Linked DNA regions of Homo sapiens. The protein of the gene in region 3 purifies or fractionates together with the protein of the main gene of each other region. This does not show direct contact. Each region holds a gene or a part of one and is shown on either strand. Other genes may lie near its edges. The genes, in order: TRNT1, MSN, ATIC, SDSL, ALDH16A1, RBBP6 and IPO5.

What was found.
Region 1: the proteins of ATIC (region 3) and TRNT1 fractionate together in Homo sapiens (co-fractionation; one large-scale study listed by BioGRID). This does not show direct contact.
Region 2: the proteins of ATIC (region 3) and MSN fractionate together in Homo sapiens (co-fractionation; one large-scale study listed by BioGRID). This does not show direct contact.
Region 4: the proteins of ATIC (region 3) and SDSL fractionate together in Homo sapiens (co-fractionation; one large-scale study listed by BioGRID). This does not show direct contact.
Region 5: the proteins of ATIC (region 3) and ALDH16A1 fractionate together in Homo sapiens (co-fractionation; one large-scale study listed by BioGRID). This does not show direct contact.
Region 6: the proteins of ATIC (region 3) and RBBP6 fractionate together in Homo sapiens (co-fractionation; one large-scale study listed by BioGRID). This does not show direct contact.
Region 7: the proteins of ATIC (region 3) and IPO5 fractionate together in Homo sapiens (co-fractionation; one large-scale study listed by BioGRID). This does not show direct contact.

What each region holds. Positions count from the first base shown.
Region 1 is NC_000003.12:3,146,648-3,150,312, reverse strand, and holds the end of TRNT1 (CCA tRNA nucleotidyltransferase 1, mitochondrial), read right to left. Parts: intron 2,864-3,665; coding exon 2,610-2,863; intron 2,408-2,609; coding exon 2,159-2,407; 3' UTR 1,290-2,158; downstream 1-1,289. UniProt on the Homo sapiens protein: Nucleotidyltransferase that catalyzes the addition and repair of the essential 3'-terminal CCA sequence in tRNAs, which is necessary for the attachment of amino acids to the 3' terminus of tRNA molecules, using CTP and ATP as substrates. tRNA 3'-terminal CCA addition is required both for tRNA processing and repair.
Region 2 is NC_000023.11:65,673,563-65,677,935, forward strand, and holds part of MSN (moesin), read left to right. Parts: intron 1-4,373. UniProt on the Homo sapiens protein: Ezrin-radixin-moesin (ERM) family protein that connects the actin cytoskeleton to the plasma membrane and thereby regulates the structure and function of specific domains of the cell cortex.
Region 3 is NC_000002.12:215,321,770-215,326,142, reverse strand, and holds part of ATIC (bifunctional purine biosynthesis protein ATIC), read right to left. Parts: intron 903-4,373; coding exon 814-902; intron 157-813; coding exon 5-156; intron 1-4. UniProt on the Homo sapiens protein: Bifunctional enzyme that catalyzes the last two steps of purine biosynthesis.
Region 4 is NC_000012.12:113,424,945-113,429,317, forward strand, and holds part of SDSL (serine dehydratase-like), read left to right. Parts: intron 1-952; exon of another isoform or gene 953-2,025; coding exon of another isoform or gene 2,026-2,043; intron 2,044-2,185; exon of another isoform or gene 2,186-2,307; intron 2,308-3,017; coding exon of another isoform or gene 3,018-3,038; coding exon 3,039-3,212; intron 3,213-3,475; coding exon 3,476-3,515; intron 3,516-4,215; coding exon 4,216-4,355; intron 4,356-4,373. UniProt on the Homo sapiens protein: Catalyzes the pyridoxal-phosphate-dependent dehydrative deamination of L-threonine and L-serine to ammonia and alpha-ketobutyrate and pyruvate, respectively. Also exhibits racemase activity towards L-glutamate and D-glutamate.
Region 5 is NC_000019.10:49,462,778-49,467,150, reverse strand, and holds part of ALDH16A1 (aldehyde dehydrogenase family 16 member A1), read right to left. Parts: intron 3,298-4,373; coding exon 3,202-3,297; intron 3,025-3,201; coding exon 2,888-3,024; intron 2,735-2,887; coding exon 2,629-2,734; intron 2,520-2,628; coding exon 2,389-2,519; intron 1,414-2,388; coding exon 1,246-1,413; intron 1,070-1,245; coding exon 868-1,069; intron 1-867.
Region 6 is NC_000016.10:24,559,877-24,564,249, forward strand, and holds part of RBBP6 (E3 ubiquitin-protein ligase RBBP6), read left to right. Parts: intron 1-1,735; coding exon 1,736-1,839; intron 1,840-1,947; coding exon 1,948-2,285; intron 2,286-3,322; coding exon 3,323-3,419; intron 3,420-3,546; coding exon 3,547-3,625; intron 3,626-3,733; coding exon 3,734-3,788; intron 3,789-4,373. UniProt on the Homo sapiens protein: E3 ubiquitin-protein ligase which promotes ubiquitination of YBX1, leading to its degradation by the proteasome.
Region 7 is NC_000013.11:97,959,613-97,963,985, reverse strand, and holds part of IPO5 (importin-5), read right to left. Parts: intron 3,640-4,373; exon of another isoform or gene 3,583-3,639; intron 827-3,582; exon of another isoform or gene 704-826; intron 1-703. UniProt on the Homo sapiens protein: Functions in nuclear protein import as nuclear transport receptor. Serves as receptor for nuclear localization signals (NLS) in cargo substrates.

The DNA.
Region 1 (3,665 bases), on a different chromosome or scaffold from region 3:
AAATTTTGAAAATTAGTTAAAATATGCAGTTTTTTGAGCCCACGAATAGTTGTCATTTCCTTTATGTGCCTGTTAGTAAAAAGTAGTATTGTGTATTTGCTCAGTATCTGAACTATAAGCCCATTTATACTGTTCCATACAAAAGCTATTTTTCAAAAATTAATTTGAACCAAAACTACTACTATAGGGAAAAGATGCCAAAACATGTCCCCTCACCCAGACTAAACTTGATACTGTATTATTTTGTTCAATGTAAATTGAAGAAAATCTGTAAGTAAGTAAACCTTAAGTGTGAAACTAAACATGTTCTTTGTTCAAATAATGTAAAATATCTACTCATAATTTTAAAGTTCTAAAAAGGCTGCTTTGCCACCTACCTCTTTGCTTATATTCAAGGGTTTAGTGGGTCCTTCCTTCCACATTTGTATGATAACTTTCGTTTTATTGGTAGTCCTTTGCTACTTTAAAACTAATCAGGTTAAATGTTTACTCAAATGTAGTAATAGTATGAGGCCAAAATACATGCCTTGAAGGTGGAGTGAAATCAGTTGAGTGTCACACTGCATATTTATGTAAATAGAGTAAATGAAAATTCAAGAATACTTCCAATCAGGATATGCCCCTGCCTTATTTTTTCTAAGGTCTACTTTTACTACTTTAATAATTTTGGGTTTGTGTGACTTCACTGGTCTGGTTTGTTCCTATAGTTCTTACACTGCACTAAAACTTACTTACTCCAGGAAGTTCCTGTCAGTAGCATAGTACCTCTCTGTAGGCTGAACTCTAAACCAGTTGCAATGAGTTACCTTGTCCCTCTGAAAAGTTAAAATTTCAGTATGTCCCATACCGTTTACTAGCAAATAAAATTTTCTGATCTGTAAAAACACACATATACTATACTACTACTGAAAATGGTTTTACACATGACAAAACCAGACCTGATAGCTAAATCTGCATACTTTCTATACAGAAATAGTATGTATTATATGACGTTGGGTCTAAATCTGTATTTTGGCAGTACTTAAATATTTTAAGTAAGTATTTCAAAGTATTATTTTATAATGCATCTAATTACTGACCTGTATGCAGTCATTTCTGAGGCTTTCTTGCATCATAGCCCCTGTGACATTTCCTCTTAGAAATATTACACTCTACAAAATTGTTTTATCAAGGTCCAAAATTACTATTTGCTCATAGAGTACAAAGATGTTATGACTGGCTACACAGAAAGGAAATAAATTATGAAATGTCAGTATAGCAGCTGAAATTATAGCAGCTGAAATAAACAGTTTGTATTATACATTTTATTTACCTGATGAAAGCATTTAGGACTCAAATCTTTAGAGAATATATAATAATAGCCATATCCTTTTAATTAATAAAATAACACTTTAAAGACAGGCATATTACCATTGTATATGACACCTAATACACATTGTCAGATACCACATAAACATATTTATCTTCCAATACCAATGTTTGTTTTATTAAAACAATAATTAATTAATAGGCTCAATAGTGACCCTCAAGTTAATCCCATGACTTCCCCAGGCTCTGCATGCATAAAGAAATCATTGTGACAGAAAAATATCAACCACATACTGAAGCATAGCTTGCTAGAACAAATCCTGTACATATGAATGCCAGCAACTGGGGACACATTTAGTATTCACATTTTATGCAAACTTACTTGGTCAATTATTTCTTTTTTAAGCACAGGTTTATTTTGGAATTCAGATAAGAACTGACACATCATAGACAGTCATTGTTAAGGTAACCCTGTTATTTCAATTGCAAACAAACAATAAACGTTTTTTCTTCAAGACAGTTACCACTTTTTAAGATCTTAGTACTACCCTATGCAAAAACAGTTTTTTTTAAAAGCCTGAACAGGTTAAGATAGATAATAGCCAACTATGTTTTCTCAGGTGAAACTATTCCAAAAGAACTGTACATTTCAGTGATATAAATCAGATCCAGAAAGGTGGATCTCTGTTTAGTTCTTGAAATATATAATTCACAAAATAAGACCCTTGTTGTTCTACAGAGGTCCCCTAAACTGTCTTTTATTCTGGTGTAGTCTCTAAAACCTCATTAAGAGGGAGGGGAGAAAATTTAGTCTTACCAGAAATGCTCTGCTTTTTAGTAGCCATCAGTTTTAGGTCTTCTTTATGTAACTCAGAAGTTCATCTTTTTCCATTTGGTAACCACTTTTTTTCCACTGTTCTCGCAACTGTTGTAATAGAGCCCCAATTTCTTTTCCTGAAGAAATGCCCACTTTTCTGATGTCATGGCCACTTACAGGAAATGGAGGAATGGACCACTGCTGCATTTCCTTTAGGAGACAGTGCTCTCCTTGGTACTTCAGTAGTTCACATACACGAGTAGTTGCATCAGGTTCCCTAGACTACGTGTCAAAATCAAACATTTAGTTTCGTCACACATGAAAACATACACTTACAATCTTATCCTAAAATTTAAATACTCAACATAAATTTTTTCATTTAAAATAAGTAAAATTCACAGATTTGTAGATCTTAGTTTTAATAAATTAATTCTAAATTCGTGACGATACTTCATATTTCTGACCAAGCCTAGTATATACTTACATCTATAATGAAGTCTTGATAGGGTTTCAATGGGTCTGAACTATCTGTTGCTTTAATTAAATCTTTCCTATTTTTAACTATAAATAAGCCAAGGTTTTTCTCCTCTTTTGCGATCTTCAACCTCAAATCCAATTTTGTGACATCATCTTGTACTTTGAATAATGAGGCCAAAAGAGTCACTGGCTTTGGTGAAAAACCATCAACATTTTTACTGACTTTGTCAAATTCTTCTAAACTTGCATTAGCAGGTAAACCTGTAGGGACAAAAGCATTTTTCACCTGTTTTTAGTGGGGATAAAAAACCACTCATATCCTAAACCTTGCCACCATTTTAGTATCCAGAAATGCTTTGTCACTAGGATACATTATATAGGTTCAGTCTGATGTTCCAACTTAAAGGCGAACCACTAATATATTGTTATTCTCTCCCCTGTCACCTTCAAAACCTCTAAAATGTTCTTGTTTCCATTAAAGCTACATCAAGAGTTCCAGGGGTAGTGGTGACAGTGGTGTCAGACTCACAAGGCATACTCTTTCTAATCACAAATTCCTGACTTTACACTGATACAAGATCCACCCCCCATTCAGTAATGTTACTGAAATTTGAAATATGCCCAAGCTTACCGAAGTGTGATAAACCATATAATCCCACTATTCTCTGTGAAAATGAATTACAACGTTTACTGAACAATTTCTGTGTACAAGTCACTCTTCTAAAAGAGCTTTACATGTATTAACTCACTGAATCCTTTTAGCTTTCCTATTAGATAGAGGCTACATTACTTTTAAACCGCTTTTTTGGGTTAGAAACTAACCCAAGTTGCAAAGACTAGATAAGGGGCTGAGCTTCCTTCAAACCTAGGTCTGACTAGAGACTACTCTACAAGCACCACAAGCTGTCTTTGAGCTCTTCCCTACTCACGACAAAACTTACCCCATAACCCAAACTTTGTCTTATTTTAAAATACTCCATTTCTCCAAGAATTCTTCAACCAAATGAGTCAAACATTTTTTCCTTATGAAATTTGAAACCAGATATTTCACTGCCAAAAATTC
Region 2 (4,373 bases), on a different chromosome or scaffold from region 3:
TCCTGCCTCAGGCTCCCGAGTAGCTGGGATTACAGGCATGCGCCACCATGCCCAGCTAATTTTGTATGGGGTACAGCATTTTAAAGGCATTTGCATCTAGGGCAACCCAGAGCTTCCCTAGCCTTAAGCTTTCCTTTAGCTGGTTGTTCTGGATGGGCAGGGTTTCTCACAGGAGTGTTTTGAACCATGGAACAACTGAGCTGGCCTTAAATCTTCTGCCTCAGCCTTTATCTTCTTGATGGGGGCACTAAAGTCCAGAAAAGGGAAAGGATTTGAGTGAACTGGTGATAGTGCCAGGACTAAAACCTAACTTGCTTGGCTCCAGTGTAGGGGAGGGATGGTGAATGCCTACCTTCTAAATGGCACTCACTGTGAGGTGCTCAGTGTCTTCTCCCTCTGTGCTGGTGGTGACATGACCGTGGAGTTATGGCCATGGGAAGAGCAAGTTCCTCTGAGTGTGTAGAGCTGATCTCATGGGTTTCTTTATTTGGAAATGGCTCAGGCTCTGACCTTGTCTCAGGAACTCTTTGTAGCACTTCCCAGGAAGGTAAGTGTTTTGCTTTGGCTTGTGACGGGTGGTGGAAGGCATATGTGTAGGCTGAAGGGAGGTAGAGAGAGGACACTAGTCACATTTTCCTGCTTGAGACTAGGCCTTGCTGTCCTAAGAAACTTTAGAGAGTAATTTCTTCATCGTATTCATAGCCAGAGGGGTTAGGCAGCTTGTTCGAGGTCACATATAGTTGGTAACAGTATTGAAAGGAGAACTTGGATTTCCTAATTCCCAAGTTAGTGGTCTCCCACTGGACTTGGCTGTCTTAGAAGGATGACTCCACCCAGAGAGCACAGACTTCCAGAGAACTGGCTCTGTGGTGATTACATTAACAAGATGGGTACAATGGAGTTCCCCTAAAATGGTTTTGCTATAGCAAGTTTTTCTGGGATCTCCGATGACTGTCTTCTCTTCCTGTCTACCCCTCACCCCAGTTCCCTGCTTTCTCTTTGCCCTGTTTAATTTTGAGCTCTGACCTTTTTGAATTCTGAATTCTGACTCAGCGCTCCAGCTTGATCTGTCCCTTGAGTTAGGAGAACAGTATGGCACTTTTTCAATTTAGTGACAGTATTTGCTGCTGTAGCAAATTGTTTGAATGCAGACTAGAATCTCCTGGCCTCAAAGTTCACCACTCACCTCTAGGTGCTTATAGGCCAAGCCTGGGGCAGGAAGCTAAAAAAAGACCTTTCAAGCCTCCGTGGAAAGGAAGCATAGAGTAGTGTTGAAAAACAGACTCTGGAACTAGACTGCCTGGACTCAAATCTAGCTCTGCGACCAACTAGTTATATAGCCTTGGACAAGTTATTTAACTTCTGCACCTCATTTTCCTTAACCATAAATAATAATAGTACTTACAGAGTTGCTGTGAGGATTACATGAGGTAATTTATGTAAAGGGCTTAGAACTGTGCCTAGAATCTAACAAGTGATATACAAATGTTATGATTATTTACTGAATTTTACTATATGCCTAACTTTGTGCTAGATGGGATGGATAAGAAAGAAGACAGGTAGTTGAATTCTTACCATTTAATGAGTGGTTACTATGTACTATTTACCATAAGGGATAGAAATAAATGAAGGGATGATACAACTGCTGCCTTCAAAGATCTCCTATCTCCTATTTAATTGGGGATTTAGGGCTAATTCACTTAAAAACGGCTTGAGAAAAATATATACTTTGCATTGCATTTTCTACAACTTTTTGAGGAGAAAGGGTTTACTGGGACATGAACAGGGCCTTAAAGGGTGTGTACACTTGGGAGCAGTGGCCGTTCTGGGTGGGAAAGTGATGTGTTTTTGGTATGTGGGTGTAAACCAATGGCCCTAGACCAATGCTCTCTTGAAAGTTACTTTATCTGAAGTGAAGGGAGGCTTGAGCTGCTGACTGATTCAAGGGGAGCCACAGATATAAGCATAGATGAAGCTACTCTTTCTAGGGTAATTTGGATCCAACAATCCTTTCTTAATTGGCAAACAAGGGCCTGTGGGGGAGACCATACCTTTGGTTTTCCAGAATTGGGCAAATTAATTTTTTTTTTTTTGAGATGGAGTCTAGCTCTGTTGCCCAGGCTGGAGTGCAATGGTGCAATCTTGGCTCACTGCAACCTCCGCCTCCTGGGTTCAAGCGATTCTCGTTCCTCAGCCTCCCAAATAGCTGGGATTACAGGCATGCGCCACCACGCCCAGCCAATTTTTGTATTTTTAGTAGAGATGGGGTTTCACCATGTTGGCCAGGCTGGTCTTGAACTTCTGACCTCAGGTGATCCACCCGCCTCAGCCTCCCAAAGTGGTGGGATTACAGGTGTGAGCCACCACGCCCAGCCTGGGCAAATTAATTTTTAAAAATGTTGCTTTTGTTGCCTAAGTAGGTATGTGAGAGGGTCTTTTCTTCATGCTTACACATGAACTAAACCAAAGAATAGAGCTTGGCAATAACTTTATGTCAGCAGCCTAGAAACAGCTTTTAATTCTCTCATTGACTTTGCTATAAAATCAGGTATTTGGGAAAGGGTGGAGATGGCAGGGAGGATTTCTCAGTGTGTGGTTGTTAGAGGTGGAGGAGTATGACGTTTTCTGGCCAGGGCACAGCTGCAGCATCTGGGTCTTGAATTTGGAGAAAAGGCCTTTTGGGCGACTTTCAAAGCACAGCCCTTTGTCTGTGCCTAATGACACAGATACCAGATCTGATGCTCCTTTCAATCGGCTTGTTGTGGCATAAGGTAAGTGTTGACATAGCTCTTAGGCCACTAATATGGCAAATGGCTCTGTGCTTGCTTAGTAGAACTGTTTTGCCAGTTATCTTCTGTGATTGGTGACTTCGAATATTGAAGTTTCTTCCCATTCCTGGCAACCCTTCTACCTTGTGGGAATTTGATAGATACTTTGTGCATCCAGGGTAGTGATCAGGGCCTAATGAGAGAAGAGTTGAGATATGACAATTTGGTTGTACAAAACAAGATATAATCCTGAAAATTTTTTTCCTGGGTATATATTTGGGAAGTGACTGGGGCCAAGGCCTAGGAGGGGGAACAAGGCATACCTGTCAGGCTTGATCAGTATTTCTTTCCCTCTCTTTAGCCTTGGCCTCCATTAAATACCTGAGAAGGATCAAGTCTTATTTTTCTCAAGTTGTGTGTTTAGATAAGGTTCCTGATCTTACTTTCGTGATCTAATCTGCCTTCCCTCCAACCCATGATCCATTTCCTTTTTTTTCTTTTCTTTTTTTTTTGAGACGGAGTCTTGCTCTGTTGCCCAGGCTGGAGTGCAGTGGCATGACTTTGGCTCACTGCAACCTCCATCTCCTGGGTTCAAGAGATTCTCCTGCCTCAGCCACCCAAGTAGCTGGGACTACAGGTGTGCGCCGCCACGCCCGGCTAATTTTTATATTTTTTTTAGTAGAGATGAGGTTTCACCATGTTGGCCAGGCTGGTCTTGAACTCCTGACCTCGGGTGATCTGCCTGCTTCAGCCTCCCAAAGTGCTGGGATTACAAGCGTGAGGCACTGCGCCTGGCTGATCCATTTATTTTTTCAGATTCTCAGCCTGGATGTTTGATGAAGCTCACCAAGAGCCTCTTTTATCTGTTGTAATTTTTAACTGAGGTTGACTAATCTATGGTATAGAGTTGGAGGGTGAGGGTCAAGGTAACAGTCAATCTGGGCATCATTAGTTAAGTCGTACAAATCTTTGCTATTTTCAAGGGTTTTAAGTGAGCTAAACTCCTCTCCAAACATCCTTGTAGATACTTGTGGGAGACTGACTAATTCCTTTACAAAGAAGAAAAGTCACATAACTTCTTTGCCTTTTAATTTTCTTTTTCTCCAACATGAAAATATCAGCAATATTAGAAAGAGGCACATGGAGTTTGCGTGTGGTGGCTCATGCCTGTAATCCCAGCACTTTGAGAGGCTGAGGCAGGTGGATCATTTGAGGTCAGGAATTTGAGACCAGCCTGGCCAATATGGTGAAACCTTGTCTCTACTAAAAATAGAAAAAATAGCCGGGCGTGTTGGCGGGAGCCTGTAATCCCAGCTACTTGGGAGGCTGAGGCAGGAGAATCACTTGAACCTGGGAGGTGGAGGTTACAGTGAGCTGAGATCACGCCATTGCACTCCAGCCTGGGTGACAAAGCAAGACTCTGTCTAAAAAAAAAGAAAAAAAAAAAGAAATATGTAAATGGAAAAGAACAAACCCCCCTCCCAGGTTCCTTATTCCCCTTGGTGCCTGGGCCATTGTAGATCTAGCATATGCTTGGTGGGGACATCTGCCATTTGCTTTAGGGTTACACTACATCTTTCTACTTTGAGTGCTTGAAGAGTTGCT
Region 3 (4,373 bases):
CCACCTTCAAGGCTAACTGGCGTCTAGTCTCCAAGGAGGTGTCCTTACTCTCGGAGCTCTGCATCTCCGTGGACACCACCACATAGTCCTCTGGTTCACACACCACTGTCACTCGAGCGTGGTTTTTGGCTGCAGCTCTCAGTAAGGTTACTCCACCTTTGAAGAACAAAAGACTTATTGATTTTTGTATGTCCCTATCAGCTTATGAACCGCTTTTAAATAAAGTCATTGTGCATGTACTTCCATTTTAATTCCTGACTTAAAAATCAGGAAAATAAGCTGGGCGCAGTGGCTCATGCCTGGAATCCCAGCACTTTGGGAGGCTGAGGCAGGTGGATCACCTGAGGTCAGGAGTTCGAGACCACTCTGGCCAACATGGCGAAATTCCATCTCTATAAAAAATACAAAAAAAATTAGCCAGGCGTGGTGGTGTGCACCTGTAATCCCAGCTACTCAGGAGGCTGAGGCAAGAGAATCACTTGAGCCCAGGAGGCAGAGGTTGCAGTCAGCCAAAACTGTGCCACTGTACTCCAGCCTGGGTGACACAGCAAGACTTCATCTCAAAAAAATAAAAATAAAATAAATAAATAAATAAATCAGGAAAATAACCCAGATGCATCTCTGCATACAAAAAAAGCTTAGAAAATATAAATGAAAAAAAGAAAATATAAATGAATTATAGTAATCCCAAAACACAATCCAGAAGTAGCTATTTTCTTTCTATTTCCTCAGTAATAAAATTCAAAATGAAATCTCACTAAAATTTAAATAATCCTCTCCTCTCAGTCTTCTAAAATGGTTTTTCTGACTTACCAATGTCAATTTGCTCCACAGCCTCCTCAACAGTTACACCTGGAGAAGCCACTGTCTTTACAAAGGGATAGAGATTGCAGGCAACAACTCTATAAAACAAAGACGAATCTGGCTGTCATTAAAAAGTCCACTCATGTGGTTTACAGCTATCTAGGAAAAAAACAAGTCAGTACTATTAACGTAAACAAAAGCCATAGAGAACTAATATATAAACTGTGAGCCTGACATTTTAGAATTCTAACGAGTGTGTTAAAAAGTCAGGGTGTCCTGCTGGGGTCGAGCAGAGGTAATTTAGTCAGCAGGTGCTCCCCGGATCTGAATACACAGTACTCCCTCCACGTCACACTGCAACGCTGCTGCTTGCATAACCTTAGCTACCCAGAACCACCAAGCCATGAAAAATTTATAGAACATTTTAATAGAAGTATAAAGTACAAGATTACAGATAACATTCTCATTTTGGAATGTGATCACTATTATCCAGAACATTAGAATTTAGATTCTTTTTCCAGTGGATTGGCACAATGATGAAAAATATCAGAGCATTCTAAGGGTGAAACATTTGTTTTGCCTTCAGAGAGGTCATAAAAATGATGGTAACAGGAATGCCAAAAGAATAATTTAAAATACAGAAGTAATCTAAAATTAACAATCAGTGAAGTACAGTTCCACTCCTAGGCCTGTAGTGCGAGGAGCTCTACGGGCAGGCTCCAAACAAGCCTAACTGCTGAAAACTAATTAAAAAAAACAAAAACAAAAACAGAAGAACAGAATTGGAGGGGAAACATTTTGCAGCTCATCTTTATTAAGTCTACTGCCCTCCTACTAAAACCAGACAAATGTCACAAGAAAACTAGAGACCAGTATCTCTTAGGTATCTTCACACAAAAACTCTCAACAAAACACTAACAAACTGAATCCAGAAAAATGCAAAAACCACCTGATCATCTCAATAGATGTACAAAAAGGATCTGACACAATTCAACAGGTATTCATATAGAAACACTCAGCAAATTAAAAATAGAAGGGAACTTACTGAACATGACAAAGTGTAAGAAAAACCCACAGCTAACATCATACTTGATGGTGAAAGACTAAAATACTTGTCTACTCAACTCAGAAACAAGACAAGAGGCCAGGCGCAGTGGCTCATGCCTATAATCCCAGCACTTTGGGAGGCTGAGCCAGGCAGATCACCTGAGGTCAGAAGTTCGAGACCAGCGTGGCCAATATGGTAAAACCCCATCTCTACTAAAAATACAAAAATTAGCCGGGCAAGGTGGCGCACGCCTGCAATCCCAGCACTTTGGGAGGCTCAGGAGGATGGATCAACTGAGGTTGGAAGTTCAAGACCAGCCTGACCAACATGGAGAAACCCCATCTCTACTAAAAATACAAAATTAGCCAGGCAAGGTGGCACATGCCTGTAACCCCAGGCTGAAGCAAGATAATCACTTAAACCCGGGAGGCGGAGGTCACAGTGAGCCAAGATCACGCAACTGCACTCCGCCTTGGGCAACAAGAGCAAAACGCCATCTTAAAAAAAAGAAACAAAACAATAATGTCCATTCTTACCACTTCTACTGAACACTGTACTAGAAGTTCTAGCCAGAGCAATTAGCAAAGAAAAGAAAATAAAAGGCATCAGGACTGGAAAGAAAGCAGTGAAGTTATATCTATTTGCAGATGATACCACCTAGTATACAGAAAATCCCAAATTCACAAAAATAACCTTTTAGCACTAATAAATGAGTTCAGCAAAGCCGCAGGATATATGATCAATATATAAAAATCAATTGTATTAAAATATACATTAGCAGTGAATGAGAAAAAAATTAAGAAAACAATTCTACTTCACAAGACAATGTTAAAGAAATTAAAGACACCCCATGTTCACAGACTGGAAGATTTAATATTCTTAGGATGGTAACATTTCCCAAATTGATCTACAGATTCAACACAATACCTATGAAAATTCCAACTGCGTTGTTTTGCAGAAATGGACAAGCTGATTCTAAAAATCATGTGGAAATGCAAGGGACTCTGAAGAGTCAAAGTCATCTTGAATAAAAAAAACGAAGTTGGGGCCGGGCGCAGTGGCTCACGCCTGTAATCCTAGCACTTTGGGAGGCCGAGGCGGGCGGATCACGAGGTCAGGAGATCGAGACCATCCTGGCGAACACGGTGAAACCCTGTCTCTACTAAAAATACAAAAAAATTAGCTGCGCATGGTAGCGGGCGCCTATAGTCCCAGCTACTCGGGAGGCTGAGGCAGGAGAAGGGCGTGAACCCGGGAGGCAGAGCTTGCAGTGAGCCAAGATCGCGCCACTGCACTCCAGCCTGGGCAACAGAGCCAGACTCCGTCTCAAAAACAAAACAAAACAAAACAAACAAACAAACAAAAAACAGAAAAATGAAGTTGGAGGACTCACACTTGCTGATTTCAAAATTTGTTACCAGCCTATAGTAATAGTGTAGTACTGGCATAACAGCAGGCACATGGACCAAGGGTGCCAAGACCATTCGATTGGGCAAAGAACAGTCTTTTCAACAAATGATGCTGAGACAACTAGACAGCCACATACAAAATAAAATAAGACTTCTATTTCATGTCTGTATATGAAAATTAACTTAAAATGAACCAAAGACTTAAGTATAAGAGCTAACACTAAAATAACTCTTAAAAGAAATGTACACACGCCGGGTGCGGTGGCTCACACTTGTAATCCCAGCACTTTGGGAGACCGAGGCAGGTGGATCACCTGAGGTCAGGAGTTCAAGACCAGCCTGGCCAACATGGAGAAACCCCGTCTCTACTAAAAACACAAAAAAATTAGCTGGGCGTGGTGGCGGGCACCTGTAATCACAGCTACTTGCGAGGCTGAGGCATGAGAATCGCTTGAACCCAGGAGGCGAAGGTTGCAGTGAGCCGAGATCACGCCACTGCACTCCAGCCTGGGCAACAAGAGCGAAACTCCATCTCAAAAAAAAAAAAAAAAAGAAAGAAAATATACACAAAAATCTTCATCACTGAGGATTAGGCAATGGTTTCTTAGACATGACACCATTAACACAAGCAACAAAAGAAAAAATAAATTCAACATCATCAAAATTAAAAACTTTTGTGGGCCGGGCATGGTGGCTCAAGCCTGTAATCCCAGCACTTTGGGAGGCCAAGGCGGGCAGATAACCCGAGGTCAGGAATTCAAGACCAACCTGGCCAACATAGTGAAACCCTATCTCTATTAAAAATCCAAAAAAATTAGCCAAGTGTGGTGGCGGGCACCTGTAACCCCAGCTACTCATGAGACTGAGGCAGAATCGCTTGAATCCGGGAGGTGGAGGTTGCAGTGAGCCAAGATGACGCCACTGTGCTCCAGCCTGGGCGAGAGTAAGACTCCGTCTCAAAAAAAAGAAAAAACTTGTGATGATCAAAGGAAACCATCAAGAAAGGCTAACACAATCCATAGAATGAGAGGAAATAAACTTACAACTCAATAATAAACAGATAAATACCTCAACTAAAAATGGACAAGAGGTCTCAACAGACATTTCTCCAA
Region 4 (4,373 bases), on a different chromosome or scaffold from region 3:
ACGCTGGTCTTGAACTCCTGACCTCAAGGGATCCACCCGCCTCAGCCTCCCAAAGTGCTGGGATTATAGGCATGAGCCACTGCACCTGGCCAATGTTATTCTTATTAACTTACACCACAACCTGTGAGTTGGGGACTGTTTTTATCCCCATTTTAGAGAAGGGGAAACAGGCACAGAGAGGTTGTGACACTTGTTTGGGTCACACAGCCAGGAAGTCGGAGCTGGTTTCTAACTTTTGCTTCTGGTCGACCCCAAAGCCTGTGCTCTTGGGGTCCAGGGTTGAGCTGAGGCCTAGGCTGGGGTATGCGGCATTTGGGGATCAGTGATGACCCATGGGCTTCTTTCCCCTGATGCCCGAAGCTGAGAGGTGCCCTGGGTGGGACTGGGAAGAGGTGGCTCAGGCTGTGCCCTGCCCGAGGGGGCCCTGAGGATTCTCAAGGCTATTCTGACAAGGGCGTGGGGTCAAACTCAGGGCCAAGAGACCCTGATCTCTCTGATCTTGGAACCCCAGCCATGACTTAAGGGTGGACAAGAAGGTTAGGTTTGTGAGTGGGCAGGGGAAGTTGCAGCGCCCCCCCTAGCGGCCAATAATGGAATGGTGGGGACCGGCCCAGTGCTTTTCTGCCTGGGACAAGAGGAGCTGGCTGTATTTTTTCCTTTTTTTTTCTCTACTATTTTTCCTCCCTCTCATTTCCTCCATCTCTTCTTTTCGTCCTTACCCACTGGTCCATTCACACACAGCTCCTCGGCTTCAAACCTCTCAAAGGGCTGAGCGCGGTGGCTCACGGATGTAGTCCCAGCACTTCGGGAGGCCGAGGTGGGCAGATCACTTGAGCTCAGGAGTTTGAGACCAGCCAACATGGTGAAACCCCGTCTCTACAAAAAATACAAAAAATTAATCAGGCGTGGTGACGTGTGCCTGTGGTCCCAGTTACTCGGGAGGCTGAGGCAGGAGAATCGCTTGAACCCGGGAGGCAGAGGGTGCAGTGAGCAGAGATTGCACCACTGCACTCCAGCCTGGGCAAGAGCGAGACTCCCTTTCAAAACACCACGACCACCACCAACACCACCACCACCTCCACCACCACCTCCCAATGGCTTTCCATTGCAGGTAGAATTTGAATAACAACCAAACTCCTCTCCGTGGGCGGGAACCCCCTGCTGGCACCCTTGTCCACATCTCCGCCCTCACCCCCTACCCTCACCTCCTGCCCCAAACCCCTTCTGTCTGCATCCGCGGCACCCCAAAGTGCATTTCTCCCTCGAGGTGGTCCTGGCTGCTGTTCTCTGTAGGAACTTTTCCTCTTGGCTCTCTTCCTGTCATCCATTTCAAAGTTCCCCTTTCAAGAACGTACAGATGGAGGCAGAGTTAAAAGACCCCTCAGCCAATCAAAATGCACGGATCTGATTTGCATCCTGATTCAAACCGTGAAAAACCCCAAACCACAACCAACCACAGAATCAGCCACTGATCATATTTAATGGGATGATTTGAAATGTGAACAATTAACAGATATTTGATGATATGAAAAAATTATATTTTTAGATGTGATCATAGTATTGTGATTACATTTTTAAAAAAATTAGCCTCAGTGAGGTATAATTTACATAAAATAAAATTAGCCCACTTTAAGTATAGAATTCAATGTGTTTGAACAAATGTATGTACAGTCATGAAACCATATGGTTACATATAAAAAAGGAGTTCTTAGGCCAGATGCAGTGACTCGCGCCTGTAATCCCAGCAGTTTGGGAGGCTGGGGCAGGAGGATCCCTTGAGCCTAGGAGTTTGAGACCAGCCTGGGCAACATAGTGAGACCCTATCTCTACAAAAAAGTACAAAAATTAGCCAGACGTGGTGATGTGTGCCTGTAGTCCCAGCTACTCAGGAGGCTGAGGTGGGAGGACTGCTTGAGCCTGAGAGGTCGAGGCTGCAGAGAGCTGTGATTACAGTACTGCACTCCAGCCTGGGTGACAGAGTGAGACTCTGTCTCAAAAACACAAGTTCTTTACCTCCAGAGAGACATGCTGAAATATTTACAGGTGAAATAATATAAAAGAATAATAGTAATTAAGGGGTAAATAATGACACAGGAAGGGGGAGTGGGCACCGATAGGGGAGCGAGTTAGACCATGAGTTGATTGCTGAAGCTGAAGGGTTTTTGTTTGTTTGTTTGTTTTTGAGACGGAGTCTCGATCTGTCACCCAGGCTGGAGTGCAGTGGCACAACCTTGGCTCACTGCAACCTCCGCCTCCCAGGTTCAAGTGATTCTCCTGCCTCAGCCTTCTGAGTAGCTGGAATTACAAGTGTGTGTACCATCATGCCTGGCTAATTTTTGTATTTTTAGTAGAGACAGGGTTTTACCTTGTTGGCCAGGCTGGTCTCGAACTCCTGACCTCAAGTGATCTGCCTGCCTTGGCCTCCCAAAATGCTGGGATTACAGGCGTGAGCCGCTGTGCCCCTGCCAGCTGAAGGTCTTTATACAGTTCTCAATACTTTTGCTATGTTTACATTTTCCATAACAAACGTTTTTACAAAGTTTTCCTCCTGAGAGATGTCTTTCATGATTGCTTTTGCTAAAATAACACCCCATACCCTCTGCAAGTCACTCCTATTTGAAATTCTGTGACTTTTCCTAGTGGGAGGTTTTTTATGACTCGTGGGTCCCCAAACCTGGAAATGCCTGGCACATAGTAGGTGCTGAATAAGTATTTTTTGACTGAGGAATGAATTCTCCCACTCTCTCATTCATTTCTCACCATATATTGGCCACTTTCTACATCCCCAGCACAGCCACACTTATGGAATGAAAGGACCCCAGGCCAAACTTCTTTGACCAGATGGGGAAACTGAGGCCCAGAGAGTCACAGATACTTGATGGGGGTCTCACAGCTCAGCAGCTGGATGAAGTGAAGGGCACCTAAGCCAAGGGCTTTCTCCACCTTCCCCTCCCTGTCCTGGTTAAGGGAACTCTTGATGGGGACTGCCTGGGTGGTGACTTTGTGTCCTCCTGCAGGCTGTCTACCTGGTCTCCAGAATGGACGGCCCTGTGGCAGAGCATGCCAAGCAGGAGCCCTTTCACGTGGTCACACCTCTGTTGGAGAGCTGGGCGCTGTCCCAGGTGGCGGGCATGCCTGTCTTCCTCAAGTGTGAGAATGTGCAGCCCAGCGGCTCCTTCAAGATTCGGGGCATTGGGCATTTCTGCCAGGAGGTGAGGGTGTGTGGGAAGGAGGGGAGAAGTGAGGTTGTGCAGGAGGGAGGGAAGAGTGAGGGGTGTGGGCTGGGGACGGGTTCGGGCAGGAGGGGAAACATGAACTCGTGCAGATGGGAGGGGAAAGGTAAGGGCAGGGCTGTGGGCAGGATGAGGGGTAAAGGCGTATTGGGAGTGGGATGGGGAGACTCTAACGCCATTCCACATAGGCCTTCATGACACCTGCTTGGGTTAGCCGCTAACCCCATTCCTTCTCTTCCCAGATGGCCAAGAAGGGATGCAGACACCTGGTGTGCTCCTCAGGTGACCCCACCTTTTTTTGTTTCATGGGCAGAGGTTGGGGGAGGAGGAATAGGCTGGAGCGGCAGTACACATCCAGGGTTGGTCTCCTCTTAAAGGCCCAGCCTCATCAAGGTCATTGATGAGATGACTACTGTGTACATCCCATCCTAGCCTTCTCCCATAGTTCAGGACTCATGATGGTAGCAAGTGCCAGAAACCCAATTCATATAGGTTTAAGCTACAGGCTCTAAGAATGGAAAATTCTTGGGATAAGTGGCTTTCAGGCACAGGGGGATCCAGGAGCTCTCCTCTCTGTCTCTCCTTCTCTGGACTTTGCTTTCCTGCATATTAGCTTTATTTTTAGGTGGGCCTCATGGTAGCAAGATGGCCACCAGGAATTCCAGCCTTGCATCCTACCAGCCTCCCAACCCTAGGGAAAAGGGAGCACCCCTTCTCGATGCCTCGCCTCAATCCTGGAATTGTTTTTTTTTTTTGGCCCCGCTTGGGTGGCGTCTTCATCCTTGAACCAATCATGGGTTGGGGGATTAGGTTCTGATTGGCTCAACCTAAATTATGTGTCCCCCTCTTGAGTGGAGGAAGGAGTCAATGGGGCATATGAATGTTGGGGACGAGTGACTCTGAAGGGATATGGAGGGGGAGGGGAAGGCATATCAAAGGCCAATCAGCTCTGCCCACTGCCCCTTTCCTCCTTTCTGCACAGGGGGTAATGCGGGCATCGCTGCTGCCTATGCTGCTAGGAAGCTGGGCATTCCTGCCACCATCGTGCTCCCCGAGAGCACCTCCCTGCAGGTGGTGCAGAGGCTGCAGGGGGAGGGGGCCGAGGTTCAGCTGACTGGAAAGGTAAGGGCTCTGGGAAGG
Region 5 (4,373 bases), on a different chromosome or scaffold from region 3:
AGATACTCAGGAGGCTGAGGTGGGGGGCTCACTTGGACCTCGGAGGTTGAGGCTGCAGTGAGCCATGATTGTGGCACTGCACTCCAGCCGGGTGCCAGAGGGAGACTGGTGCCAACATGCCCAGCTAATTTATCTATTTTTTGTGGAGACAGGGTTTCACTGTGTTGCCCAGGCTGGTTTCAAACTCCTGGCCTCAAGCGATCCACCCACTTTTGCCTCCCAAAGTGCTAGGATTACAGGCGTGAGCCACCATGTCTGGCCAGGTATTTTTTGTTTTTTGTTTTTTTTTGTGACACAAGGTCTCACTCTGTCACTCAGGCTGGAGTGCAGTGGCACGATCTCGGCTCACTGCAACCACTGCCTCCTGGGTTCAAGCAATTTTCCTGCCTCAGCCTCCTAAGTAGCTGGGACTATAGGTGCCCACCACCGTACCCAGCTAATTTTTTGTATTTTTAGTAGAGACCAGGTTTCACCGTGTTGCCCAGGCTGGTCTCGATCTCCTGACCTCGTGATCCGCCTGCCTCAGCCTCGCGAAGTACTGGGATTACAGGCGTGAGCCACTGCGCCCCCAGGTGTTTCTTTACAGCAATGTGAGAACCGCCTAACAGCCCACTAAATTGATTTTAGGGTCCAGGAATGGGTCGCTATCCATCATCTGGCGAACGCTACTCTACGAGGCGGGTTGTGTGCCCACTCACTGTACAGATGAGGGAACTGAGGTAGGGAGAGGTGAAGCCACTTGCTGATGATCCTGCCGTGGAAGGCGGTGGGGCTGGGCCCGAATTCCAAGCCTGGGTTATCTCACAGCCTCTGGTCTGAGCCCCACCCCGCCTGCCCAGCTGGCCCAGGTGCCCACAGACCCTTCACCTGCAGGGTGTGGCCTTGGGCCTGCACCCGGGCCCCCCACGCCCGAAGTCGTCTTGCGCTCAGCTCCACCTCCGCCTCCGCAGCCTTGAGCTCCGCTCCCTGCCTCTCCAGCCTCGAGGCCAGGGTAGACTTCCGGCGCTCCAGTGCAGCCGCCAGGGCCCACAGCAGGGCTGCCCGGGCTCCTGGGGACTGGCCCGCCCAGCTGTGGGCAGACAGCGCACAGTGGGGGTTGGCATCCTGGTCTTGGCTCTCCTGACACCCCACCTCTGTCCACAGCCCCTACCCTGGGGGCCCAGCCTCCCAGTCCACCAATTGCTGTGGGCAGGCTCCCCTCTCTGCCACACCATGACCCTTGGGCTTTCCCGTGTGACCCCTTACCCAGGGAAAGCCTGGTGAGCGGCCTCCACAGCACCTCGGATGTCCTTGGCTCCACCCTCAGCCACGTAGCCATGGAGGTTGCCAGACGAATCCCGGATGGGCCTGGAGCTTCGGGCCCCAGGAGCCTGGAAACGGCCCCCAACGAAGAGCCCATAGGGGGGTGCTGGGCTGGAGTAGGGTGGGACATGAGGAGGAGTCCTGGGGCCTCAATCTGCTCAGACCCTATGCTCTACCGCACTGGGAAGACTGCCTTGGCTCCCGTGAGCCTCTGGGGCACCCCAAACCCCTGTTCCCATGAGCCTCTGGGGGACCCTAAAACTCCTGCTCCCATGATTCACTGGGGGACCCTAAACTCCAGCTCCCATGAGCCTCTGGGGGACCTTAAACTGCTCCCATGAGCCTCTGGGGAACCCCAAATTCCTGCTCCCATGAGCCTCTGGATGACTCAAGTTTCTGCTCCCATGAGCCTCTGGGGGACCCCAAACCCCTGTTCCCACTAGCCTCTGGGTACCCTAAACTCCTGCTCCCATGAGCCTCTGGGGGACCCTAAACTCCTACTCCCATGAGCCTCTGGCAGACCCTAAACTGCTCTCATAAGCCTGTGGGGCACCCCAAATTCCTGTTCCCATGAGCCCCGGAGGACCCAAAGCTTCTGCTCCCATGAGCCTCTGGAGGACCCTAAGTTCCTGCTCCATGAGCCTCTGGGGGACCCTAAGCTCCTGCTCCCATGAGCCTCTGGTAGACCCTAAACTGCTCCCTTGAGTCTCTGGGGGGACCTCAAACTCCTGCTCCCATGAGCCTCTGGAGGACCCCAAGTTTCTGCTCCCATGAGCCTCTGGGGGACCCCAAGCTCCTGCTCCCATGAGCCTCTGAGGGACCCCAAGCTTCTGCTCCAGTGAACCTCTGGGGGACCCCAAGCTCCTAGACCCATGAGTTTCTGGGAGAGTACAGACATTCATGGGGCAGAGCTGAGAGTCTCGGCAGGCCTGGGGTAGGGAAAGTGTGAGGCCACAACGTGGTACTCAGCAGGACTAAGAGATGGTTTGGATGGACCTCGCGCCAGCCCTCCAGTCCACGGGGAAACAGGCATCAATTCCCCTCTCCCCGTTCACACTCCCAGACCACTGGCCCCCAACGACTCACCTGGGCCCTATTTCAGGCCCAGCCGGCAGGGTTGAGGGAACAGCGAGGCCAAAGGTGTCATAGTTCAGGTTCTTGGAGAGGCAGGACAGCCGGGCAGGGGTCCCTGAGGGCCGCAGATACTCATACAGCCCCTGTGAGAGGGACGGTGTCAAGAGGATGCAAGGGGCACGCGAGGCCGGATGCGAGTGTCAAGGGCATGGGGCGGCGGGGGGGCTGGTGACGGGGAGGGGATGTACTCACGTCTGGGCCCCCGTGCCAGGAACACCCACTCTCCTTGCAGCCGCCTGTGGGCACCGAAGGGTCTCTGAGGCCGTGGGCGTTGATCCAGACAGTGCCCACCTGGAGCCTGTGGGGAAGATGAAGGTGTCCAACAGAGGAAAACAGACGGTGGCAGGCCGGGAGAGGGGTGAGTTAAAGGCGCGGGGAGCGACCCAGGGAGAAGGGAGATGAAGATGGAAGAATGAGGAGAGGAGTGAGCGCCCGGGCCACGCAGACTGACCCATAGCCCAGCTCCAGCGCCTGCCCCAGCCTCTCGCTCCACACACTGGCGCTGCCCCCGCGGGGCGTCCCGTTGGCCACCAACAGTGCCTCCTTGGCTGTGCGGAAGGGGGAGGCCACGACCACAGGCCACGGCACCTGCAAGGGGTGACCGGGAGGCTCAGCCCTCCAGGGCCCACCCACCAGGGAAGGAGCCTAGAGCAGGCAGCAGCCCCCACGCCCAGGTCACATGGTTACCCCAAGGGCTTCCCCAGGCACAGAGCTGCTGCCCTTGGCTGGCGGTGGGTAGGAGCTCTGCAGCCTTAAGGGTCTCACCTCCACCTGGGCACATGGGGAGGCTGGGGGCAGGTTGGAGACCAAGGTTGGGGGATAGAATGGGCGTTCCGAAGGCACATCACCAGCCTGGAACACCTAGGGAGAGAAATGATCTAGAAGTCGACTTCTGGTCCCTTCCTGCTGAGACCGAGGACTGCAGGACCCCAGCCCCTCCTCCCTCAGACCCAGGAGTCCAGGCCCCCAGCCCCTCCTCCCTCAGACCCAGGAGTCTGGACCCCCAGCCTCTCCTCCCTCAGACCCAGGAGTCCAGGCCCCCAGCCCCTCCTCCCTCAGACCCAGGAGTCTGGACCCCCAGCCCCTCCTCCCTCAGACCCAGGAGTCCAGGCCCCAGCCCCTCCTCCCTCAGACCCAGGAATCCAGGCCCCAGCACCTCCTCCCTCAGACCCAGGAGTCCAGGCCCAGCCCCTCCTCCCTCAGACCCAGGAGTCCAGGCCCCCAGCCCCTCCTCCCTCAGACCCAGGAGTCTGGACCCCCAGCCTCTCCTCCCTCAGACCCAGGAGTCCAGGCCCCCAGCCCCTCCTCCCTCAGACCCAGGAATCTGGACCCCCAGCCCCTCCTCCCTCAGACCCAGGAGTCCAGGCCCCAGCCCCTCCTCCCTCAGACCCAGGAATCCAGGCCCCAGCACCTCCTCCCTCAGACCCAGGAGTCCAGGCCCAGCCCCTCCTCCCTCAGACCCAGGAGTCCAGGCCCCCAGCCCCTCCTCCCTCAGACCCAGGAGTCTGGACCCCCAGCCTCTCCTCCCTCAGACCCAGGAGTCCAGGCCGCCAGCCCCTCCTCCCTCAGACCCAGGAGTCTGGACCCCCAGCCCCTCCTCCCTCAGACCCAGGAATCCGGGCCCCAGCCCCTCCTCCCTCAGACCCAGGAATCCGGGCCCCAGCACCTCCTCCCTCAGACCCAGGAGTCCAGGCCCAGCCCCTCCTCCCTCAGACCCAGGAGTCCAGGCCCCAGCCCCTCCTCCCTCAGACCCAGGAATCCAGGCCCCAGCACCTCCTCCCTCAGACCCAGGAGTCCAGGCCCAGCCCCTCCTCCTTCAGACCCAGGAGTCCAGGCTCCCAGCCCCTCCTTCCTCGGACCCAGTTGTCCACGCCCAGCTCCCTCCTCCCTTGGACCCAGGAGCTGGGTCTCCAGGCCCCTCCTCCCCTGACACCCTC
Region 6 (4,373 bases), on a different chromosome or scaffold from region 3:
TCTAGAATTGACTTCTGTACCTTCATCAGGGTGACTATACTGAGGTGTTTTTCTTAATATAGACTTTTTGTTTCCTGTATGTTTTAAGTGGTATCCAGAATTTTAAAACTTTTTTGGGCCTTAGATAATTCTGGAAATATTTTTAAGTGGTATCTAAATCTTTTTCCTGGATTGTGAATAGCTTATCCTAATATTTCTAAGTGTATTAACACCTGATTCCTGTAGACAGTTTTTGTTTTTTTTTTTTTTTTTTGAGACAGAGTCTCACTGTCTCCCAGGCTGGAGTGCAGTGGTGTAATCTCGGCTCACTGCATCCTCTGCCTTCTGGCTTCACACAATTCTGCCTCAGCCTCCCAAGTAGCTGGGACTGCAGGTGCCCGCCACCACACCCGGCTAATGTTTTGTATTTTTAGTAGAGACGGGGTTTCACTGTGTTAGCCAGGATGGTCTCGATCTCCTGACCTCGTGATCCGCCCACCTCGGCCTCCCCAAGTGCTGGGATTACAGGCGTGAGCCACCGCGCCCGACATCTGTAGACATATTTATTACCCAGCATTTACCATGCAGTTGTGACTTTTTAAATCACTTATATTAGCACTTAGTTGTTTCCTGCCACTTATCCTAAGTTTGTGCCTTCTTACACAGAAGAAATCAGTGTTACCTGAAAATTTGCTCAAGCCTGCTCTGGCCTTTTTCATTTTTAAAGGTAGTTTTGAAATATACAGTCCTCATACACATGGTTCTGCATCTGCAGATTCAAAACCACAGATCATAAATATTTGGGGGCAAGAAAACAGTAAAAAATAATAGTAAAGACTAATACAGATTTTAAAATAAGAGTATAACAACTATTTACATAGCATTTATATTGCAGCAGGTATTACAAGCAATCTAGAGATTATTTAAAGTATACTGGAGGATGTACATAGTATTATATGCAAATACTATGCCTTTGGGGCAGTTGAGTGACTTGAGCATCTACAGACGTTATCTTCAGAGGGTTCTGGAACCCATCCCCTTTGGATACCTGTAAATCTTTATTTTTTGACCTCTTCAGTGAAGACCAAGGTCAAGAAGAGGTTGCTAAAGACTTGTTTCAGATTATATCTTAGATTTAACATACCACTTGGTATTACTGGAGTTTTACTACATTGAAGCTTAATCTTCGTATCTGTAATTTAGTGTTGCTCCCACGTACTGTGCTGTAGGTCTCTCATTTCCTTGCCTGAATAAAAACCCCAAGTTAGCCATGTAAAATTTTTGTCTTTCTAGACTATCTTATATTTCTCTTTTGTTTTCTACAATATTCCAGTTACTAGCTAAACAAAGAATAGTCTTTGAGAAAGAGTGCTTTTGCTCTCAATTCAGACATTTGTTTAAAAAAAAAAAAAGATGGGGTGGGGGATCCTTGCTATTTTGCCCCAGGCTAGCCTTGAACTTCTAGGCTCAAGTGATTCTCCTGTCCCAGCCTCCCCAGGAGTGGGGATTACAGGCACATGCCAGCACACCCAGCTGTGACTTCTTTTTAGCGTAGCATAGGTCATATAGAAAAGAGCAGAGGAGTACTGTAAGATGAGAGATTTTACTTAAGTTTCTTAATCTAAGAAATGATTAGCACGACATGCTTGGAAAACAGTAATGTAACTGAACAAATGTGGACCATCCTTTTAATTCATTTCGTAAACACTTTGAGTTCCTACTATGCTTTTATTAATATTTGAAATCTTATACATAGGTATAAGAACAGCACTCCTGGAATCAGATGAGCACACATGTCCGACGTGTCATCAAAATGATGTTTCTCCTGATGCTTTAATTGCCAATAAATTTTTACGACAGGTAACTGTCTGTATCCATTTTATGAAAAAATTCTTTTTAACTGATTTAACTGTACTTCAGTGAATACTGCATAACATTTTTCTGCATTATTATGCTTGGTATCTGTAGGCTGTAAATAACTTCAAAAATGAAACTGGCTATACAAAAAGACTACGAAAACAGTTACCTCCTCCACCACCCCCAATACCACCTCCGAGACCACTGATTCAGAGGAACCTACAACCTCTGATGAGATCTCCGATATCAAGACAACAAGATCCTCTTATGATTCCAGTGACATCTTCATCAACTCACCCAGCTCCGTCTATATCTTCATTAACTTCTAATCAGTCTTCCTTGGCCCCTCCTGTGTCTGGAAATCCGTCTTCTGCTCCAGCTCCTGTACCTGATATAACTGCAACAGTATCCATATCAGTTCATTCAGAAAAATCAGATGGACCTTTTCGGTAAGCCTGTGTGTTTTTCACTGTTAGAAACCAAATGAGGTCAATGATGTAGTGTTTTGTTGTTGGTTATCACTTTTAACAGCTTTCTTAGTGGACCACTGTGCTCAGTAATGTGGGATGACTTGTAAGAAGTGACTTAGTCTTATTGGGGGAAGAGGAAAACAAACGTGATTGATTTGGCAAATGAGGATTAAGCATCCTGAGGTCAAATACTACACAGGTTGCCAACCAGCCCCTATTAAACGTTGAATGTTCCATATACCATAACAGCTCTGAACTTAACAGAGGTGGGAGAATTCACTTGTGATCATAATGATAGTTTTGGATAGGAGTAGTTTTGAGTAGAACTAAGAACAGTTTAGATAGGTAGAGAAGAGGGGGTAAAAACACAGGTAAGTAGAGAAGTCAGGAATAGTGATTGTTTTGGAGCATAATTATTATGTAGGAGAATAGTGAAAACTCACAGCCTACCACTTCAGAAATGAGACTTTTGTCCATGTAGTTTAATGTCTCATAAATTCTTTAAAAAAAAAAAAAAAAGGTGTAAGAGGCCCATTTCAGACACACTGAAGCAAAATCTTTAGGATGAGACCTTTACATTTACATTTAAGAAATTCCACTGATCTGGTGGAATTTATTTGGTTGATAGTGGAAATAGGCCCAGAGAGTTCTATGGCTGACCCAAGATTATCCTTTCAGTTTAGTGGTAGAACTAGAGCTAAAACTTAACTCTTAATCCTAGGGGGATTTTTGTCTTCATAGGCCAGACTTTGATTTTAAGTTTTACTATTCTTGCAACTGATTTCTGTCATAACTGTAGTATCTTCTTAAGGAGGTCCTTCATTTTACTTTTCCACTTACTACATATAGAGAACTCTTCAAAGTTTCAGCCTTCTCTCACTTTCCTCAGAAGTATTCATCATCTTTGACTTAACTCATCTTAACTGCAGGTGATGGGTAAACAGCAGCAAACTTTTTTACTCTTAATTGTCCATTTCTGATAATTTTTAATGTATTATAATTTATGTTTTTTAAAGGGATTCTGATAATAAAATATTGCCAGCTGCAGCTCTTGCATCAGAGCACTCAAAGGGAACCTCCTCAATTGCAATTACCGCTCTTATGGAAGAGAAGGTAAATTTTACTGGTGCTTTAATTTGGGATTTTTTTTACAGCAGGGTTTTGTTTTTCTGGCTTTGTTCTTACCTCTTTTTTTTTTTTTTTTTTAACTATTTCTGTTTATTTGTGGTTGTTTCTAAAGGGTTACCAGGTGCCTGTTCTTGGAACCCCATCTTTGCTTGGACAGTCATTATTGCATGGACAGTTGATCCCCACAACTGGTGAGTAAGATCACTTTGGTTTAGACCTTTTTCCCTTTAAAAAATAATTTTAGCTTGATTTAATGTGCAATTTTGTATTTACCTACTGCTTTTATTTTTTGTTTCTAGGTCCAGTAAGAATAAATACTGCTCGTCCAGGTGGTGGTCGACCAGGCTGGGAACAGTGAGTAGATGTTTACAATAATCTTCAGATGATTGCCTGCAAACTAGATAATGGAAGGTCCAAACTAGGCAAACTAGATAATGGAAGGTCCAAACTAGGCAGCGGGTCGCTGCTCTTTATTGTAAACTTTCATGTGCCAGATTAACATTTTTTATGTAAAATGTCAAAATTCAAGCTTATATGAGGGTTTTTTTTAAATGAGCAAATCTTTTCTAAAATACAAAATTTTAAAAGTTTTTTTCTACTTTCATATCCAACAAATGGGGATCTTGACAGGACTTCAGTTTAATGAATAGATAAGAATTACTTGAAAAGTTATTTTAAATATGGTGGCAGTTATTTTCCTAGTAGGTTTAACTTTTTCTACCCTTAATTTGGATGATCAAAGTTTGATTTGAGTACATAAATACATAATAAGATTAACGTCTACCAAACAAAAATTTTTTGTCTGAAATCGAGTTGTTCTTGCCACCCTAAAATACAAAGAACTTTGATTTTCTCTGTGGGATATTTTATGGCATTAAAAATCAGCAGACTTACTTAATGTATTTTTAGTTATATAATTATTTCTGTTTATATAATCCG
Region 7 (4,373 bases), on a different chromosome or scaffold from region 3:
ATGTTGCCAACAAACATATGAAAAAAAGCTCATCCTCACTGGTCATTAGAGAAATGCAAATCAAAACCACAATGAGATATCATCTCATGCCAGTTAGAATGGTGATCATTAAAAAGTCAGGAAACAACAGATGCTGGCGAGGCTGTGGAGAAATAGGAATGCTTTTACACTGTTGGTGGGAGTGTAAATTGGACAAACTGATTCTAAAAATTCATCTAGAGTTGCAAGAGACTCTGAGTAACCAAAGCAGTCGAAAAAAACAAAATTCAAAGGATTAACAGTTGCTGAATTCAAGGCTTACTATAAAGCTGTAATAATGGCCGGGTGCAGTGGCTCACACCTATAATCCTAGCATTTTGGGAGGCTGAGGCGGGCAGATCATGAGGTCAGAAGATCGAGACCATCCTGGCCAACATGGTGAAACCCCATCTGTACTAAAATACAAAAAATTAGCCGGGCGTGAGGGTGCATGCCTGTAGTCCCAGCTACTTGGGAGGCTGAGGCAAGGGAATTGCTTGAACCCAGGAGGCGGAGATTGCAGTGAGCTGAGATTCCACCACTGCACTCTAGCCTGGTGACAGAGCTAGACTCCGTCTCAAAAAAAAAAAAAAAAGCTATAATAATTAAGACACAAGTGTTACCGGCATAAGGACAGACATATAGATCAATGGAATTGAATAGTGACTCCAGAAATAAACCTTACATGTGTTGTCAGACTGATTTTTGACAAGGATACTGTGATGGTTAGTTTTATGTTTCACTTGGCTAGGCTGTTGGAGCCCCGTTGTTTGGTCAAACAGCAGTCTAGATGTTGCTGGGAAAGTATCTGTGGATACAATTTAACATTTATAATCAGTTGACTTTAACTAAAGCAAATTACCCTCCACAAGGTGGGTGGGCTTCATCTAATCAGTTGAAGGCCTTAATAGCAAAGATGGAGGTTTCTGGGGGAAGAAACAATTCTGCTACAAGACCACAGCACAGAAACCTTGCCCGAATCTCCACCTGCTGGTTTGCCCTTCAGATTTCAAACTCAAGACTACAACATCAACTCAAACCTGAATTTCCAGCCTGCTAGCCTGCCCTGCAGGATTTGAACTTTCCATCTCTCATAATTATGTAGCAGATTCCTTAAAATAAATCTATCTATCTACCTTTTTTTTTTTTTTGAGACAGTTTCACTCTGTCACCCAGGCTGGAGTGCAGTGGCACAATCTTGGCTCACTGCAACCTCTGCCTCCCAGGCTCAAGTGATTCTTGTGCCTCAGCCTCCTGAGCAGCTGGGACTACGGATGTGCCTCACCATACCCAGCTAATTTTTTGTATTTTTAATAGAGACAGGGGTTTCACCATGTTGGCCAGGCTGGTCTCGAACTCCTGACCTCAAGTGATCTGCCTGCCTGGGCCCCCCAAAGTGCTGGGATTACAGGTGTGAGCCACTGTGCCCATCCATCTATTTCTTATTGGTTCATTTTCTCTTGAGGACCCTGGCTAATATAGGAGCCATGACTGTTCACTGTGGAAAGATTGTTGCCGGTACAACTTGATATCCACATGCGTTAGAATGAAGCTGGACCCATACTTCACGTCATAAAAACTTCAAAGTGGATCATAGACTAAATGTAAGAGCTAAAACTATAAAATTCTTACAAGAAAATATAGGACTAAATCTTCATCGCTTTGGGGTAGGCAATCATTTTTTAGCTATGACATCAAAATCACAAAAGGCAGAAGAGAAAAATGGATACATTGAACTTCACAAAATTAAAACCTTTGTGCTTTTAAGGACACCATCAAGAAAGAGAAAAGACAACTCATAGAATGGGAGAAAATATATGCAAATAATGTATATTTTTTGAGACAAAGTCTCACTCTGTCACCCAGGCTGGAATGCATTGGCATGATCTCAGCTCACTGCAGGCTCTGCCTCCCAGGTTCAAGTGATTCTCCTGCCTCAGCCTCCAGATTAGCTGGGATTACAGGTGTGCGCCCCCACGCCCAGCTAATTTTTGTATTTTTAGTAGAGATGGGGTTTTGCCGTGTTGGCCAGGCTGGTCTTGAACTCCTGACCTCAAGTGATCCACTCACTTTGGTCTCCCAAAGTGCTGGGATTACAGGTGTGAGCCACTGCGCCTGGCCACAAATCATATGTCTTATAAGGGACTTATATCCAGAATATTTAAAAAGCCCTACTCTCAATTAAAAAAAGACAACCCAATTAAAAAAATGGGTAAAACATTTGAATAGACATTTCTCCAGAGAAAATATACAAATGGCCAATAAGCACATGAAAAGATGTGCAACATCATTCATCATTAGAGAAATGCAAATCAAAACCACAATGTAAGTTACCACTTCATACCCAATAAAATGGCTTTAATAAAAAAGGCAACAGCAAGTGTTGACAAGAATGTGGAGAAATTCAAACGCTCATACTTTGCTAATAGGAACATAAAATGTTACAGCCAATTTGGAAAACAGTCTGAATAAGCTGGGTGTGGTGACGCATGCCTGTAATTCCAGTTACTCGAGAGGCTGAGGCATGAGAATCACTTGAACCTGGGAGGCAGAGGTTGCGTTGAGCCGAGATCGTGCCATTGCACTCCAGCCTGAGTTACCATTTGACTCAGTAATTTCACTCCTAGGTATATGTGCAAGAGAAAAGACAACATATGTTGACACAAAAACTTGTACATGAATGTTCATGGCAACATTATTCACCACAGCCAAAAAGTGGAAACAATTCAACTGTCCATCCACTGGTGAATGGATAAACAAAATGTCTTCTAACTATACAAGGAAATATTACTTCGCAATAAAAGAATAAAGTAATGATACATGTAACAACATGAGTGAACCTTAAACTCATTAGACTGCCTGAAGGAAATCAGACAAAAAGACCACACATTTTTTTGGTCCCACTTATGGGAAATGTCCAGAATCAGCACATCCATAGACAGTAGATTGGTGCTTGCCATGTGCCTGGGCATGGGGTGGGTAGGGGAATCAGTGAGTGCTAGCAGGTATGGAGTTTTCTTTTAGGGTGAGGAAAGGGTGATAGTGATGAATGTGCAGCCCACTGAATATACTAAACACTCCATTGTACACTTTAGAAGGTTGAACTTTAGGCTGGGTGAGGTGGCTCATGCCTGTAATCCCAGCACTTTGGGAGGCTCAGGCGAGTGGATCACCTGAGGTCAGGAGTTCGAGACCAGCTTGACCAACATGGTGAAACGCTGTCTCTACTGAAAGTACAAAAGTTAGCTGGGCGTAGTGGTGCGCGACTGTAATCCCAGCTACTCAAGAGGCTGAGGCAGGAGAATTGCTTGAACCCAGGAGGTGGAGGTTGCAGTGAGCCGAGATCATGCCATTGCACTCCAGCCTGGGTGACAAGGGTGAAACTCCATCTCAAAAAAAAAAAAAACCAAATAAATAAAATAAAAAGTAAAATTTGGACTTTATGGTGTATGAATGTCTCAATAAAGCTATTATATTAAAAATACATTTCCTTAGAGAGCTGAAGGATATTGATTTAGACCTCAATTAGTGATTTTTTCCCCCTATCATTCACAGTATTTTTACCTTAGTTCTGAATCCTTGAGTGATAACCATTCATAACCTTCAAACTTCGGAGAATTCCTAAACCAATATTTGTGGAGAGGGAGAATGGGGAGATTCAGATATGATTTGGTCTGTAGACTTTCCTTCCCATCTTTTTGCTACTTACAGCAAGTATCTTACAATTTGGACACATGACATACACATTTCACCTCCTGCATTGTGAGGACATACATAATGGAGTCTGAATTGTGACATCGATCTGCATCTCATAGTTGGAGCTATTGGCAGCATGGATTTTTAGTCATCCACAGTTAATGAGGAACAAATGAAAGGGACCTTATAATGGTTCATAGGCTTCAATTCCATGCATCCTATGTGTAGTACTGCTTGATGCCACATTTAACTGCAGTAGTATTTGTTTAATGAACATTTTCTTCATTCATTTGTTTAGAAAAATATTAGGCACCCCTCTGTGGGAGGTGCTGCTAGGCTGTGGGGATTCCACGGTGAGCATGCGGACAGGGTTCCCACCTTCAGGGAGCTTAGCTCTTTTGAAAGAATTCAGATAATAAACAAGTAAACTGATAAGATACTTGCATACAGTTATAGGTGAAAAAAGAAGATAATGGGATCACGAATGACTGGATTTGGAGTGGGGTCATACCCTAGGGACACAGTCTTTCTTTTCTTTGAGACAGAGTCCCAGTCCGTCACCCCGGCTGGAGTGCAGTGGCGCTATCTAGGCTCACTGCAACCTACGCCTCCCGGGTTCAAGCAATTCTCCTGGCTCAGCCTCCTAAGTAGCTGGGACT